Homo sapiens: one gene and its partners. The protein of the gene in region 2 interacts with the protein of the main gene of each other region in a biochemical or structural test. Each region holds a gene or a part of one and is shown on either strand. Other genes may lie near its edges.

Evidence for each region.
Region 1: of the proteins of BAD (region 2) and AKT1, one has a biochemical effect on the other in vitro, tested with the Homo sapiens proteins (6 studies listed by BioGRID, with this or other methods).
Region 3: the proteins of BAD (region 2) and BCL2L2 interact in a biophysical measurement, tested with the Homo sapiens proteins (4 studies listed by BioGRID and IntAct, with this or other methods).

What each region holds. Positions count from the first base shown.
Region 1 is NC_000014.9:104,775,149-104,778,891, forward strand, and holds part of AKT1 (RAC-alpha serine/threonine-protein kinase), read right to left. Parts: intron 1,623-3,743; coding exon 1,511-1,622; intron 652-1,510; coding exon 504-651; intron 60-503; coding exon 1-59. UniProt on the Homo sapiens protein: AKT1 is one of 3 closely related serine/threonine-protein kinases (AKT1, AKT2 and AKT3) called the AKT kinase, and which regulate many processes including metabolism, proliferation, cell survival, growth and angiogenesis.
Region 2 is NC_000011.10:64,270,997-64,274,739, forward strand, and holds part of BAD (bcl2-associated agonist of cell death), read right to left. Parts: intron 808-3,743; coding exon 617-807; intron 1-616. UniProt on the Homo sapiens protein: Promotes cell death. Successfully competes for the binding to Bcl-X(L), Bcl-2 and Bcl-W, thereby affecting the level of heterodimerization of these proteins with BAX. Can reverse the death repressor activity of Bcl-X(L), but not that of Bcl-2.
Region 3 is NC_000014.9:23,304,709-23,308,451, forward strand, and holds the start of BCL2L2 (bcl-2-like protein 2), read left to right. Parts: upstream 1-2,124; 5' UTR 2,125-2,186; exon of another isoform or gene 2,187-2,239; intron 2,240-2,483; 5' UTR 2,484-2,571; intron 2,572-3,051; 5' UTR 3,052-3,059; coding exon 3,060-3,491; intron 3,492-3,743. Other genes in the region: BCL2L2-PABPN1 protein, read left to right, coding at 3,060-3,491. UniProt on the Homo sapiens protein: Promotes cell survival. Blocks dexamethasone-induced apoptosis. Mediates survival of postmitotic Sertoli cells by suppressing death-promoting activity of BAX.

The DNA of each region.
Region 1 (3,743 bases), on a different chromosome or scaffold from region 2:
ATCACCTTGCCGAAAGTGCCCTTGCCCAGCAGCTTCAGGTACTCAAACTCGTTCATGGTCTATGGGCAGGCACCAGGGTCAGCAAGCGGCGCTGCCAACAGTGCCCAGCTGGTCGGCATGCGTGGGGTGGCATGAGGGGCCCCAGAGTCGGAGGCAGAGCCAGGAGAGGCGTCCACTTCACACCTGGTGGCCTACTGGGCTCAGCGGGGAGTCCAGGCTTACAGGGAACACATGGCTGCGGCCCCAGCTCAGAGCATGGGGTTCAGGGAAGGGTGGGGTAACATTGCCCAAGCCTGGCAGGGCTCAGCAACCCCAGTTTTCCTCTGACATGGGGAAGAGGACCCACCTGGGAAGCAGCTGCGCCCTACATGGAAAACCGGCCTAGGTGGAGATGCCGTGGAGTGCTGAGTGTCTCCTGGGCCGAGCTGGGACCCCATGACCCACCCAGCCCTCCACAGTCCAAGGCAGCCCCAGGCACAGGCAGAAGTGGGGACAGGCCTCACCACGCGGTGCTTGGGCTTGGCCAGGGACACCTCCATCTCTTCAGCCCCTGAGTTGTCACTGGGTGAGCCCGACCGGAAGTCCATCTCCTCCTCCTCCTGCTTCTTGAGGCCGTCAGCCACAGTCTGGATGGCGGTTGTCCACTCCTCCCTGCAGGAGGTCAGGTGAGGCTGCAGGCCTGTACCAGATCAGGAGCTCCACCCCACGTCTTTCACCCACCCGCCAGCCTCACAAGCGTGGTTCCACAGCTGTCGGGGTTCCCAGAGACAGCCCTGAGGAGGCCACCACTTGACCTGGTCTGGCCACATACACTCAGGGTCACGAAGCCCTCTTGGACGTGGGGGACACCCAGGCTTAGCCCCCCAGCAGGACTCTGTCCCCACAACCGGACTCCAACCCCCAGCAGGACTCCGCCCCCCAGCAGGACTCCGCCCCCCCCAAGCAGGACTCCGCCTCCCAAGCAGGACTCCGCCCCCCAAGGAGGACTGGCCCTCTCCACCGGGTTTTTCTTTTTTTGAGACGGAGTCTTGCTCTATCGCCCTGGCTGGAGTGCAGTGGTAAAATCTCGGCTCCTGCAGCCTCTGCCTCTCGGGTTCAAGCGATTCTTGTGCCTCAGCCTCCCAAGTAGCCGGGATTACAGGTGTGCACCACCACACCCAGCTAAGTTTTATATTTTTAGTAGAGACGGGGGTTTCACCATGTTGGCAGGCTAGTCTCAAACTCCTGGTCTCAAGTGATCTGCGCACCTCGGCCTCCCAAAGTGCCGAGATTATAGACGTGAGCCACTGCACCCGGTCCCTAGCCAGTTTTTATCTCCAGCCTCAGTTTCCCCACCCAAACCCCACAGGCAGGACTGGGCCAGTTTCCAAACTGGGCTCTGAGGAGGGCCTGGGAGCACTGGGGAGTGAGGATGGCTACAGGCAGAGGTGCCAGCACCCCGCCATCCCCGTGTCCCTCCTAAGCGCTGGGGCTGCCCAAGTGCCTGGCCTGGCCGCCACAGCCCACGTACCGCTCCTCAGGAGTCTCCACATGGAAGGTGCGTTCGATGACAGTGGTCCACTGCAGGCAGCGGATGATGAAGGTGTTGGGCCGGGGCCGCTCCGTCTTCATCAGCTGGCACTCTGCGGGCAGGCAGAGCCTCTGTCTGCGTGCATCCCCCTGCCCCTCCCAGGGCCCTCACCACAGCCCCCGCTGCACCAGCCAGCTCCCCTTGCATACCACCCACCAGGTCCTGGGAAGCCCCATCTCTTCCTCTCTCCAAGCCTCAGTTTCTCGCCTCACAGAGTGGGGCTAGGACCCCTGTTCCAGCTCAGACACTCTACTCCAGGCTGAGGCAGCCACACAGGGCATCTGGCCCGGCGTCAGGTCAAACCCCCACCATCGTCCACTCCTACAGTCCTTCCTTCAGTCTCTGAGCCCCGCCGTGCGCCAGGCCTCAGAGGATGAGGGGTATGGAGATCCCACAGAGGGGCTGGCATGAGGGGGGCACCCCAGAAACCTGCTTGTCCCACCTAGTGTAGAAATGTCCTGCTTTTTTCCCAACCTCACCCTGAGTACCTGGGAAATACAGCCACCTGGAGCACACCCACACCTGGGGCACACCCACACCTGGGGCACAGGCACACCTGGGGCACAGCCACACCTGGGGCACAGGCACACCTGGGGCACAGCCACACCTGGGGCACACATACATCTGGGGCACACACACACTGGAGGCAAAGCCACACCTGGGGCACACGCACACCTGAGGCACACACCTGGGGCACACGCACACCTGGGACACAGCCACACTGGAATACACAGACATCTAGAACACATCTAGACACCTAGCCACATCTGGGGCACACGAACACCTGGGGCACACGCACACCTGGGGCACAGCCACACCTGGGGCACAAGCACACCTGGGGAACACATACCTGGGGCACAGCCACACCTACAGCACGTACACCCTGAGGGCTGTGGGAACGTGCGGGGCCCTGAGAGGTGTGAGTGAGTGGAGTGTGTAGCCGCTGGGGCTCCGTGGCAGGCTCTGGCCCAGCCTGTGCAAAGCAGGAGGAGGCTGAGGGGCCAGTGGGGGGCCTCTGACATTCCAGCATCGAGGCCCTGGCAACCACAAGGGGGCCTGGCCAGGCAGCAAGGAAGCTGTCTTCCAGGCCTGGGGGCCAGGAGGGGGCTCGGGACCAGCCTGGTGGGGAGGGTGGCCTGTGTCAACACAGGCCAGAGAAGTGGAAACCGGTGTGAAGCCCCGGCACACCCACCTCCCACTCGCTCCTGGATGGTCCGATCTGCCCCAGTATGCAATCCCCAGGGCCAGAGTCTCGAGCCCACTGCCCCGGAACCGTTCCCCGGAGAAAAGCCCCGGACAGAGGCCCAGCACAGCCCCTGGCCCCTGCCCAGCTCTGCTCCTTGGCCAGGCGCTCCAGGCCACTCACCTATGGCCTAATCTGAAGGCCCCAGCCTTGCCAGCTGCTCAGGCAACACCTCCAGCTGGTACCCACCCGTGTGCCTCTCCAGAGAGCTCCCCACCTCGTTCCTTCCCAATGCCTCGGCCTGGCGAGCACACCCACAGCACCCACCCCCAGCAAGGCCCTGTCCCAGGTGCCACCAGGCACGCTGCTGGCACCCAGCCTCTCCCTGATCCCTGAAGCCCCCAGCCCCAACCGAGGAGACACTGGGGAGGGTGTGGGACAAGTCACAGTGAGTCTCCTGCATGGTTACGAGGCTGTCAGGAGACAGGGGTGTCTGCCTTCCTGGTCTCCCCTCACCCCTGGGGTGCCCTACTCTATCAGGCTGCCCTGCTACTGCTGGCTTGAGGCTGGAAGAGCCAGGGAAGGAGACCTCGGCTTACAGGAACCAGGTCCTGGTAAACCCCACCCCAACCCCAGCCCCTCAGCCTGGGGCTTTGCAGGGCAAGGCCTCTGCCCCTCCCAACTAGAAGCTTCAGGGCACGGTTTGCTGGCCACAGACCACCTAGCAGCCAGGGTGCCAGACTGACCCCACCTCCCCTTATACGTGCAGGCACCAAGGGTGGGAGTCCTTCCCTGCCCAGCCTGGGGACGGATTCCCTGCATTTAACCTCCTCCCAGACCCTGGACCAGAACCTGGGGGTCCAGCAAGTTCAAGGGAGTCGGAGGACCGCAGGCCTCAAAGAAAGGAGGGCAGAGCTACTTGGAGGGGAGGGGCCGATGCAGCACATGGGGATGGAACCTAAGGCCAGCCCCTGGTGGGCACCTCGCTCT
Region 2 (3,743 bases):
CACACACACACACACACGCCTGGAGTGGGATCTAGACTACAGATCCCAGCATGCCCTGTGACTGACACACACACACACACACACACACACACCTGGAGTGGGATCTAGACTACAGATCCCAGCATGCCCTGTGACTCTCTCACACACACACACACACACACACACACCTGGAGTGGGATCTAGACTACAGATCCCAGCATGCCCTGTGACTCACACACACACACACACACACACACACACACACACACACACGCCTGGAGTGGGATCTAGACTACAGATCCCAGCATGCCCTGTGACTCTCACACACACACACACACACACACACACACACACACACACGCCTGGAGTGGGATCTAGACTACAGATCCCAGCATGCCCTGTGACTCACACACACACACACACACACACACCAGGCGGGGGAAGAGCTGGGGAGTGGGGGCGGGGAAGTCTTGTGACTACAAATCCCAGAATGCTCTGGAGCTAGGAAGGAACAGGACGGCTTTGGGGAGGGGTCGTGGGACTCCAGATCCGGGCGTGCCTTGGGACAAGGCAGGGACAGACCGGCGGGGGGCGGCCTGGTACTTCAGGTCCTGGCACGCTGGGGACTGGCGCTCACCTTAAAGGAGTCCACAAACTCGTCACTCATCCTCCGGAGCTCGCGGCCATAGCGCTGTGCTGCCCAGAGGTTGGGGGGCGCCGAGCGCGAGCGGCCCCGAAAGGGGCTGGGCTCCTCCCCCATCCCTTCGTCGTCCTCCGTCCCCGCGGGGTAGGAGCTGTGGCGACTCCGGATCTCCACAGCCCCAGCGCCTGCAGAGGGTCAGTGGGTAGGGGGGCGACGTTAATCTCAGCTCCTCTAAGCCCCTGGCCCTGCCTGAACCCTCCCCATCAGCTCTGCAGGCCCACTCGTGGGTCTTCCAGGGGCGCATCACAGCCCACCTCTCAGAGCCCCAGTCCCTTGTATGTGAATCGAGGGGAAGCTCAGGGGCCTTTGGTGAAGATTTAGGTTAACTTCTCATTAATCCCACGAATCCTTACCGAGTGCCAATAATGGGTGAGGCCCTGTGCCTAGCACAAAATAAGGGCATAAGAAATACTAGTTACATCACAAGGTCAGGAGATCGAGACCATCCTGGCCAACATGGTGAAACCCTGTCTCTACTCAAAACACAAAAATTAGCTGGGCATAGTGGCACGTGCCTATAGTCCCAGTTACTCGGGAGGCTGAGGCAGAAGAATCGTTTGAACCCAGGAGGGAGAGGTCGCAGTGAGCCGAGATCACGCCACTGCACTCCAGCCTGGGCGACAGGCTTTTTTTCTCAAAAGAAAAAAAAAAAAAGCAAGAAGTATTATTAGTGCAAGACCTTCATGGGGCCTCCTGGCAACCCCTGGGTTGGTAGCTATTTCATAGTGTCTGTTCTACATCGGAGGAAGCCAATCCCTTGGATAGGAAAGTGTCCTGCCACAGCCGGCAGGATTGAATGCCTCCTCTGCAAGGGACCTGCAGAGCCCCTGGAGAACAAGAACTTGGCCGCTACATGTCCGCATCCCCCACAGAGCCTTCTCTGGAGACAGTGTCTGGAACTGTTGACGTTTTTAGGTACCATTGATGGTGCACTTACGTGTAGGCCGAGACATTCCCTTATTATCCTCCTAACCACCCTGGGAGGTGAGTACCAAACATGCTTAGGTGAGAAGACAGAAGCTTAGAGAGTTAAGACTTGCCCAGTTTCTGTGAAGCTGTGGAGGCCTGAGGCTGGAAGGTTCCAAAGGTTTGGTGGAATCCAGAGTCCAGTGATGATCAGCGGAGCTCTGTGTCTCTCCCCTTGTCTAGCCAGCCTTCGACTCTCTTAGCCTGTGTCCTCACCTTTATGAGGGGATAATCCTAGCCCTGACTCCCAGTGGCTGTGTGAACATCACATAAAATTAAAAAATGTGAAAGTGCTTTGTGGCTGGGCGTGATTCCTCACGCCTGTAATCCCAGCACTTTGGGAGGCTGAGGCAGGTGGATTGCTTGAGTTCAGGAGTTCGAGACCAGCCTAGGCAACATTGCAAAACCCCATCTCTATTAATTTAAAAAATTAATAAAAGAAGGCCAGACGTGGTGGCTCACGCCAGTAATCCCAGCACTTTGGGAGGCCAAGGCAGGTGGATCACCTGAGGTCAGAAGTTCGAGACCAGCCTGGCCTCAAACTCTGGTGAAACTCCGTCTCTACTAAAAATACAAAAATTAGTTAGGTGTGGTGGTTCACGCCTGTAGTCCCAGCCACTCAGGAGGCTGAAGCAGGAGAACTGCTTTAACCCAGTGGGTGGAGGTTGCAGTGAGCCGAGATTGTGCCACTGCACTCCAGCCTGGGTGGCAGAGCGAGACTCTGTCTCAAATAATAATAATAATAACAAAAGAAAAAAGAAAGTGCTTTGTAGGCTGCAAGTGCACTATGGGTTATTATTCAGAGGCCCGCCTACTATGGTCTATTTGAACTGTGCTCTGTGCCATCTCCCAACTCCTGCCAACTCCACTCCTCTACCCAGACCGATAAAGACTTAGAACCACTCCCCTGAGCAAACACTCAGAGTGCAATGACAGAGTGAGAAGCAGGTGGGGGGCTGGGCGCAGTGGCTCACGCCTGTAATCCCAGCACTTTGGGAGGCCGAGGTTGGGGAGATCACGAGGTCAGGAGTTTAAGACCAGACTGACCAAGATGGTAAAACCCCGTCTCTACTAAAAATACAAAAAAATTAGCCAGGCGCGGTGGCAGGCACCTGTAATCCCAGCTACTCGGGAGGCTGAAGCAGAAGAATCGCTTGAACCTGGGCAGCAGAGGTTACAGTGAGCCAAGATCACGCCACTGCACCCATCTCAAAAAAAAAAAAAAAAAAAAAAAAAGAGAGGCAGGTAGGGAAACATGCTGGGTGTTTATGGCAAGATATGTCTGTCAGGGAGGCTCTTTGGAGGAGGTAAATTACAGGCCAGGAACTGAAGGCGGGGGATAACCATTGGAATGTCTCTTCTCCCCTCAGAGGACCTGAGGACCTGGCCTGTGGGCCAGTGCAGGGCCTCCAGGGGTCCCAGCTAGGACACATAAATGAGACACATGACTAAGAAAGCAAGTAGGTGGCCGGGTGCGGTGGCTTACGCCTTTAATCCCAACACTTTGGGAGGCCGAGGCAGGCGCATCACGAGGTCAGGAGATCGAGACCATCCTAACACGGTGAAACCCCATCTGTACTAAAAGTACAAAAAATTAGCTGGGCATGGTGGCTGGCGCCTTAGTTCCAGCTACTCGGGAGGGTGAGGCAGGACAATGGCGTGAACCCGGGAGGCGGAGCTTGCAGTGAGCTGAGATCACGCCACTGCACTCCAGCCTGGGTGACAGAGTGAAACTCTACCTCGAGAAAAAAAAAAAAAGCAAGTAGGCGCAGTGGCTCACGCCAGTAATCCCAACACTTTGGGAGGCCAAGGCAGGTGGATCACTTGAGGCCAGGAGTTCGAGATCAGCCTGACCCAACATGGCAAAAACCCATCTCTACTAAAAATACAAAAAAAGGCCAGGTGTGGTGGCTCACGCCTGTAATCCCAGCACTTTGGGAGCCCAAGGCAGGTGGATCACGAGGTCAGGAGTTCGAGACCAGCCTGACCCACATGGTGAAACCCTGTCTCTACTAAAAACACAAAAATTAGCCAGGTGTGGTGGCGCGAGCCTGTAATCCCAGCTACTCAGGAGGCTGAGGCGGGAGAATCACTT
Region 3 (3,743 bases), on a different chromosome or scaffold from region 2:
CAATATAATATATATAATGCATATAAATTAATGTCTAATAAATCATACATTAATTTATGTTACAATCAAGCTGGCCCAGGAGTTTGAGATCAGTCTGGGCAACATAATGAGATCCCTATCTCTATAAAAAATGAATTTAACCAAGCATGGTGCAGTACACCTCTAGTCCCAGCTACCAGGGAGGCTGAAGTGGGAAGATTGCTTGAGCCTAGACGGTGGAAGCTGAAGTGAACTGTGCTTGTACCACTGCACTCCAGTTTAGGCCATGGAGTGAGAACCTTGTATCACAAACAAACAAATAAACCAGGAGTGCAAATGAAGACTTGGACTAGGTTATTCTCTAAAGAAGAGGGCAACCTTGCTGGTGGCAGCCAGAATGATCAGGCTAAGAGCAAAAATGAAATGAGGATGGTTGAAAGGATACAGCCATAAAGGAGTGTAATAGGCTGTGTGTTTAGAATAGAGGAGAGAATTGAGTATGGACTTGTAAATGGTGTGGATTCAGACTATGAGAACCATATTGACTATGTGAAGGCAAGAGGTGATCTTGAAGCGATAGTGTCAAAGTTACAGCATGAGATGGCTGTGCTAGCTTCTTACATATCAGCCTATGGCTTTGGGAAAATCACTTAACCTCTCCAAACCTCAATTTCCTCATTCATAGAATGAGGATAAAACAGCATAAGGACTGGTGAGAGGAAAAAATACACATGTAAAAAAAGCACAGCATCTAATAACTCCTCAAAATATGTTAGTTTTTACCTTTTTTTTTTTTTGAGATAGAGTCTCGTTCTATCACCCAGTCTGGAGTGCAGTGGCATGATCTCAGCCTCCTGGGTTCAAGTGATTCTCATGCCTCAGCCTCCTGAGCAGCTGGGATTACAGGCTGGCTAATTTTTGTATTTTACGTCTGGCTAATTTTTGTATTTTTAGTAGAGATGGGGTTTTGCCATGTTGGTCAGGCTGGTCTCGAACTCCTGGCCTCAAGTGATCCACCCGCCTTGGCCTCCCAAAGTGTTGGGATTACAGGTATGAGCCACCGAACCCAGCTAGTTGTTACTGTTATTGCTGCAGAAAAGACCTTGCTTCTCCAGTGACCATAAGGGAAGATGGTAATACAGAGGCTTGGATTGGAGGTAGAAGCAAAGGGAGCTAGCAGAATAGGAGAATTAGGTTGCCTCTTTCTGGCCTTTGGTTGGGGCACTCTTTAAAAAAGTGCCAGATCCAAGAGCCCAGGGGGCTGGCTGTGAGTGCCCTCATGTGGATCAGCTATGGTCAGACTGCTTCACGCCTGTGACCTGCCCTGTATAAATATACTGCCATGTATAAATAATGGCCCCATATATATGTAATCTGGAAGGATAAACATCAAGCTTAACACTGGCAACCTGCAGGGAGGGAAGTGGAATTGGGTGTGTATGTGTGTGTGTGTTTGAGAACCTGTATTTTATTACTCCGCACGTCTTTATTGTTTGATTTTTTTCATAATGAGAATGAGTTTGTGTGTTGGGTAAAAAAAAGAAAAAGAAAAAAACCCCACTAAAATCAATCTAATTACAAAAGAAGATGAATTAAAGAAAAGTACCGAGAGAAACTGCTTGTGATCCAAGTCCTGGCTCCCTAATGCCTGGCTGAAGCCCAGCCCACAAAGAGAACACTGGGTTAAAGGTCCTGGAGAAAAGATGGGAAAGGTTTGGTGTCTATGTGGTGTCTGCTAGCCCCATAAGGGTAAGGCACCTGGTAGACGGTTCCCAGCTTAATGGGAACTGCTCCTGTTTTCCAGGCACACAGTTCAGGGCTGGAAAAGTTCAACAAGTGCATGGAACATCGGAAACCTCCTGAAAATGCTAAATTTGCCCCGAGATGTCCCGAAGTCCGGCATATTTCTCTGGGCAGCCTAGAGGCTCAGGAGCCCAGCCCAGCCCAGCCCACCGTGCCCTCTCAGCCAGCCCTTCTTTGCCTTCAGCAGCCCTCCCTCTTCCTGAGTAGTGGCCCTTTGCAGGCCTGCGTCCCAGCCCCGCCCCTCTCTCTGGACGCATCTCTGGGCCCCATCATCACCCGGCGCCGGGCCCTCCCTCTGCCCCCCCCTTTCTCCTCCCTCCTTCCTTCCCTCCCTTCCTCCCTCTCTCCCTCCCTCCCAGCTCCTGCACCAGGAAACGGCCCGGATCCCGGCAGCGGCCTGACCCGTGAGATCCCTAACCTGGCAGGCGGGCGGGGTTGGAGACTGGCTGAGGTGGGGGTAAGGGAGGAGCTGGGCCTTTGGGCTGCACTAGGGGGAACCGGGAATAGAGATGGTGTCGGCAGGAAGCCCTTGGCCTTGGGTTTCCCGGGAGGACAGTCATTAAACATGGATTCGGCCACACAGCTGGTAGAGCGTTGGGGGCAGGGGCCTAGGCCCAGAGCTGCAACCCTAGCCCTTCCCAGGCCAGAACCTGATCCCTGGCCTTCCCCTCCTGGTTCTGATCTCCCCCTCCCCTTTCCAGGGCTCCACGCTGGCCAGGAGGATGAAAGGCCCCAGCTGGGGGCTCCTTGCCACCAGTGCTGTGTCTTAAGAGCTGCCATCCCGGCTGGGTGAGTGTCTCCTTCCTTTCTCTGTCTGGAGTAACCCATTGCGTCTCCCACCTTTCTCTTCAGCCCATCTGCTCCCCCTCATCTTGTGTCTCTGCCAACATCTTTACATCTTGCATTTGGGGAGGTCCTAAGACCCTTCCTCTAGCCAAGAAGGTGTGGACTAAGGAGACCCGGGGGTGGGGGTGTTGTAGGGGTGTCATTGAGCTGACGTTGTCTTATTGTGAAAAGAATCTAAAGTATCCTAAACAGAAAATTTACTTGTTTTACATTTAATTTGGCATATTAGGAATGTAATGGCCAGCCACTCACAGCCTAGTCTCATATCATGACTTAATTCCCTTGTTCTTGCCTCTCCCTGTCCAGTGAGTCCTGAGCATTTCCTCTCTCCTCCTCATCTCACTGGGTTGGTCAAACCAGAAGTGCTCCTTCTGATTCTCTCTTCATATATTCATGCCAGTCTTTCATCCTTGCCTCTTATAGCCGCCCGGATGGCGACCCCAGCCTCGGCCCCAGACACACGGGCTCTGGTGGCAGACTTTGTAGGTTATAAGCTGAGGCAGAAGGGTTATGTCTGTGGAGCTGGCCCCGGGGAGGGCCCAGCAGCTGACCCGCTGCACCAAGCCATGCGGGCAGCTGGAGATGAGTTCGAGACCCGCTTCCGGCGCACCTTCTCTGATCTGGCGGCTCAGCTGCATGTGACCCCAGGCTCAGCCCAACAACGCTTCACCCAGGTCTCCGATGAACTTTTTCAAGGGGGCCCCAACTGGGGCCGCCTTGTAGCCTTCTTTGTCTTTGGGGCTGCACTGTGTGCTGAGAGTGTCAACAAGGAGATGGAACCACTGGTGGGACAAGTGCAGGAGTGGATGGTGGCCTACCTGGAGACGCAGCTGGCTGACTGGATCCACAGCAGTGGGGGCTGGGTAAGAAGCTTCTCAATTGCCGCTCTGCACATCCTTCTGCAAAGCTGGTCTCCAGGGGGAAGATGGGGGCTCTGATTGGAGGCTGAGGCAGCTATGTTGGGAATGAGGTACGGGGCTGAGTCTCCCCGTCTGGATGGAATTAGATTGAGAGATGCCTGGACTCTGCACTCCAGGGCTGCCATGCAGTCAACACTGGATGGGCTCATGGTCCCAAGCAGAGGACAGAATACACACCCAAGGAGTGCCTGCAGG